Regions from separate parts of the Homo sapiens genome. Here region 2 is linked to region 1. A link means that fine-mapping ties the variant in region 1 to the expression of a gene that starts in the linked region. Tissue or cell type: aorta. Region 1 holds a variant in brackets; the other region holds the start of a gene. All regions are shown on one strand. Distances are from middle to middle.

What was found. PIP is the estimated chance that this variant, and not a neighbour inherited with it, causes the effect.
Region 2: CHDH starts here. The variant in region 1 is fine-mapped to the expression of CHDH in aorta (GTEx, PIP 0.90).

The regions. Positions count from the first base shown.
Region 1 is chr3:53,905,594-53,908,436 of GRCh38, forward strand. No RefSeq gene overlaps it. Among named protein-coding and RNA genes, the nearest start is that of SELENOK, 15 kb to the left of the region's middle. The variant G/A (reference allele first, on the strand shown) is at 1,544.
Region 2 is chr3:53,845,251-53,847,921 of GRCh38, forward strand. It overlaps CHDH (choline dehydrogenase), which reads right to left and starts at 1,169. Exons shown (of 9, transcript NM_018397.5): 1 at 833-1,169. IL17RB (interleukin 17 receptor B) reads left to right here and starts at 1,318. Exons shown (of 11, transcript NM_018725.4): 1 at 1,318-1,398. The coding sequence starts at 1,339. RefSeq lists enhancers at 1-284, 285-1,125, 1,072-1,366 and a silencer at 717-1,366.

The DNA.
Region 1 (2,843 bases):
GCCTGGGAGGTCAAGGCTGCAGTGAGCTGTGATTGTACCACTGCACTCCAGCCTGGATAACAGATTGAGACTCTGCCTCAAAAAAAAAAAAAAAAAAGAAAAAAAAGATTTATGGGCAAAGAAGCAAAGCAAAGCAAAGAAGCAAAGCAAGCAATGTCTAAAGAATGAAAAAGGCCAGACATGGTGGCTCATGTCTGTAATCCCAGCACTTTGGGAGGCTGAGGCAGGTGGATCACGAGGTCAGGAGATTGAGACCATCTGGGCCAATATGGTGAAACCCTGTCTCTACTAAAAATACAAAAATTAGCTGGGTGTGGTGGTGCACACCTGTAATCCCAGCTACTTGGGAGGCTGAGGCAGGAGAATCACTTTAATTTGGGAGGTGGAGATTGCAGTGAGCTGAGATCACACCACCGTACTCCAGCCTGACGACAGAATGAGATGCTGTTTAAGAAAAAGAAAAAAAAGAAAAAAAAAAGAAAGAAAGTATGACTGATTGACTGATGTTTTGACAAATAGAAATATCAATAAAGAGATCAAATTTTGTTTAAGAAGAGAGAACCAAATAGAAATTCTAGAGTTGAAAATATAGAAACTGAAATAAAAATCCACTAGAGTGGCTCAACAGCAAACTTGAGCAGGCAGATGAAACAATCAGTGAACTTGATAGATTGAGATTATCCAATCTAAGGAACATAAAGAAAAAAGAATGAAGAAAAGTGAACAGTTTTTAGAGACCTGTAGGACACCATCAGTCATACAAACATATGCATAATGGGAGTCTCAAAAGAGAGGTGGGAAAGAGGGATAAAGAATATTTGAAGAAATAATGGCCAAAAACAGTTCAAGTTTGATGAAAAATATTTGTCTATGCACCCAAGACCTAAAATAACTCCAAATAAAATAAAACCAAAGAAATCCATACCTAGATACATGATAATCAAACTGTGTTGAATCTTTAAAGCAGCAAAAGAGAAGTGACTCATCACACACAAGGAATTCTAAATAAGATTAACACGTGATTTCTCACCAGAAATCACGGAGGCCAGAAGGCAGTGGGATGATATATTCAAAGTGCTGAGAGAAAAAGATTGTGAATCAAGAATTCCATATCTAGAAAAACTATCCTTCAAAAATGAATGAGAAAATAAGACATTCCTGTATAAACATATCCTGAGAGAATTCATTGCTTTAAAATCTGCCCTACAAAAAAATACTAAAGGGATTAATGCAGACTGAAATGAGAGGACAGTAAGCAATAACTCAAATCCACATGAAAAATAAAAAGCACTGGTGTGTTAGTTTCTGAGGGCTGCTGTAACAAATTACTACAAACTGGGTGGCTTAAAACAACAGAGATTTATTCTCTCACAGTTCTAGAGGCTAGAAATTCAAAATCTGGCAGGGACACATTTTTTCCAGGGCTCAAGGGAAGAACCCATTCCTTGCCTCTTCCAGTTTCTTATGGCTTGCCCAGAATTCCTGGGCTTATAGTTACATCAATCCAATCTCTGCCTTGTCTTCACATCACCCTTTCCTCTGC[G/A]TCTGTCTTCTCCTGTGTGTGTGTATTATAAGGACACTTGTTAGATTTAGGGCCCACCTGGATGATCTCATCTCAAAATCCTTAACTGTCTTACATCTTCAAAGATCTTTTGTTTTTTCTTTTTCAAATAAGGTAACATTTTCATAGGTTTTGGGGTTTGAGACATGGACATATTTGTAGGCGGCCACCATTTGCCCCTCTACAATCAGTAAAGGTAACTACATAGGTAAATAAAAAACACAGTGTAAGTATATTTTTGTAACTTTTTCCTCTTAACTAATTTAAAAGATAAGTGCATTAAACAATAATTATAAAATCTGTAATGATAGGCAAACAATGTAAAAAAAGGTGTAATTTATATGACAGTAACAGCACAAGGGGGGAGAAGAAACGGAACCATACAGGAGCAAAGTTTTTGTATATTTTTGAATTAAGTTAGCATTAATTTAAACTAGAGTTTTAAAAGTTAAGGTGTTAATTGTAATCCCCAGGGCTACTACTAAGAAAATAAGTTTTAAAATATGATAAAATAAGCAACAGGGGAATTAAAAGAAGTCAGTAATGGAGGAGTAGAAATCAAAAAGGCATAAGACATATAGAAAACAAATAGCAGAATGGTAGAAATAAGCTCTGCCTTATCAGTAATTACATTAAATGTAAATAAACACTTCAATTAAGAGGCAGAGATTGGCAGAAGACATTTTTAAAAATGATTTCTGTGTTTCTTACAAAAGACACATTTAGATTTAAGTACACAAATAAGTTGGCAGTAAAAGGATGGAAAAAGATATACCATGCAAACAGTAACCAAAAGAAAACTGGAACCACTATACCAATATCAGATACAATAAACCTTAAGACAAAAATTATCAGTAGAAAACAAGGATATTTGATAAGTATTATAAATCAATACACCAAAAAGGTATAAAAATTATAAACATATATGTACCCCAAAATAGACTTTAAAAGTGTATTAAGCAAATACTGATAAAAGTGAGGAAAGAAATAGACATTTCAACAACAATAATAGTTGGATAATTCAACATCCCACTTTCAATACTGGCAAGAAGACATACACAGAGATAAACAAGAGAATGAAAGACTTGAACAGCACTAAACCAACTAGACCTAACGAACCTCTCTAGAATACACCATGCCAAAACAGCAGAGCACATATCTTTTCAAGCACACATGGAACATTCTCCAGTATAGACATATGTTAGGCCATAAAGCAAGTATTAATACCTTTTAAAAGATTGGAATCATTCGAAGTATTTTTTGTAACTACAATGGAATGAAA
Region 2 (2,671 bases), 60 kb before region 1:
GGCTGATCCCCAGTCCATGCAAGCCTTAATCAAGCTGGCAGGTGGGCCAGGCCTGGCACACAAGTAGGGCCTCAGCTAAAACAGCTGCTTGACTTAGTACAGCCTCTCACCAGCTGACAACACACCCCTAAGTTCCATACCCCTCTCTAGGCCTCCGTCTTCTCATCTGTAGAATGGAGCTAATTCTGCCTACAAGTTTAAATGGCCCTGAGTTGGTCACCACAACCCTGTCGTTTGCAAACCGAGGGGGCTGAAGCAGCAGTTCCAGCCTCTGTGACTCCACTGTTAGCCCAGCTGATTTTTGTGAACTTTCCCCCAAACCCACTGTGTCTCAAAGGATGGTCCCTGGGCCACCCACCCACGAATTACGGGGGCGTGGGTGGAGGCTCGTTAAATGCAGATCCCGGGCCTGACCCGGACCTGCCGTCTGGATCTCATTTTAGGCGGCGCTAGAGATCCCGGGCCAGGGAAACTTGAGAACCGCAGCTCCAAATCGCCAGTGCTGACGGCTTCCGCTTTGGGAGCCCCAGGTGTTGCTGTCCGAACTCACTTGGTGGAAACAGACATTTACCAGAAAGCCTGGGGTCGGGCAGCGGGCACTCCTACCGCTCTAACCCCGCGTAGCTGAAAGAATTCGCTCCCTCAAAGGAGTCAGTGAGCTTCGGCAGTCTGCGTTCCACCCGTTTCGCTTCGCGCGGCGGGGCGATTGTGTAAAGCGGGCCCGGGTCTCGGCGTCCAGCCCGGCCCCAAACCTCCGGCCCCCAGGCCTCTCCGGGCTAGCGGCCGGGCGGCGCTGCTGCGGGGTGGTCGGGGCGCCTCCGCGGCTACTCACCCGGGGCGACTCGGCCGAGAGCCCGACAGTCGGGACCGGAGCGGGAGGAGCGGGTGGCCGCGGCCCGGCCCCTGCCCCGCGGCACTTTAACCGGCGGCGCCGGCGCCCCGCGCGCTCTCTGCGTCCGGAATGGGGACGCAGCAGTTCCGACCCGGTCGGCCCCGGAGCCGCGAGGCTAGCTGGGCTCCAGCGGAGGCGCGCGAAGCCCGAGGGCGGGTGCAGCTGATGCACCTGGCTCACTGCATGCACGTGTGCGCGGGGGTAGGCGCGCGCCGCGGCGGCCCGTGCTCCGCCAGCGCTCGGACACGGCCCATCCCTCCGAGCCCCAGCAGGCGAGGGCGCTGCGACCTGCCCCAGCCTGGGAGGGGGCCAGCGGGCCCGCCCTCTGTTCGGGTGGCGGGAATGGGTCGGCGCTGCGAGAGGCGGAGCCGAGAAGGGGCGGCCCGGCGGCGCCGGGATAAAAGCGCAGCGTGCGGGTGGCCTGGATCCCGCGCAGTGGCCCGGCGATGTCGCTCGTGCTGCTAAGCCTGGCCGCGCTGTGCAGGAGCGCCGTACCCCGAGAGCCGGTAAGCCCCCGCCAGCACCTCTTCCCTCATCTCCCGGCCCTCGAGCCCAGATCCTGACGTCGTCTGATCCGCCAGTCCAGGCTGCCCCGAAGGCGTGCGCGGACTGCCGGCTCAAGGGGCATGCCTGCACCCTCAGGGCAGCCCCGGACATCGGCGTCAGGTTGCTTGAGTCAGGGGCGTGGGAATCAGACAGACCCGGTCTCAGATGCCACCCTGTACTGTTGGTTCTGTCATTTATGCTCACCAAGTTCCAAGTCCCGAACGGTAAAACGAAGGGCAGTACCGAACCCACCAGGGTCTCTTAAGGTATAACGACATGGCCTGCAATTAGCGGCGAAGGGCCTGGCACGTAGTTATTGTTACTTGGGGTCTGCTCACCTGTTGGGGCACAAGAACTGTTTCTCCATTAGTACCCCCTCCCTTTTTGGCCATATTGATTGCCATGTTCACTCGTGAAGGCAGTTGCCTTTCTTCCCCAGTACCCTGAATGATCGAGGGAATCTTCTGGGTCACTGAAGAGAAAATAGCTCATCCCCCAAATAACCTTTGAAATGATACCGCTGCCCTCTTAGAATAGCATATAGCATCAAGCTCCGTAGTCACCTGCTGGTGGACAAACCCCATTCACTGTTTCCTGATGTCTTCAGCTCCTATCCTTCCCCTCTGTGTCAGTTCAGAAGCCCTCTTGGCTCTTTGCACTAAAGGGAAGAATTCATCCCTTTTGCTGTAGTTGCTGCAAGGCCAACAATTTGAGCTTGGTAGCATTTAGGGTTGTTGCTTGGCCTCTCACCGGCCGTTTGATAAGAACTCAGCTCCTGGTATGATGGCTCATTTGTTAAAAAAAAAAAAAAAAAGTCAAGTCTGGCCGGGCTCGGTGGCTCACGCCTGTAATCCCAGCACTTTGGGAGGCTGAGGCGGCCGGATTGCCTGAGGTCAGGAGTTTGGGAACAGCCTGGCTAACATGGTGAAACCCCGTCTCTACTAAAAATACAAAAAGTAGCCGGGCATGGTGGCAGGCGCCTGTAATCCCAGCTACTCCGGAGGCTGAGGCAGGAGAATCACTTGAACCCGGGAGCCAGAGGTTGCAGTGAGCCGAGATCTGCGCCACTGTACTCCAGCCTGGGTGACAAAGTGAGACTCTGTCTCAGAAAAAGGAAAAAAAAATCTGATGATATCCCTTAGAGTTCATTTTTTAAAAGACAAATAAATGATTGACAATTTTGCCCAAACTCAAATCATTCAAACCATCAAAAGGAGATCTTAGAAGGTGTTT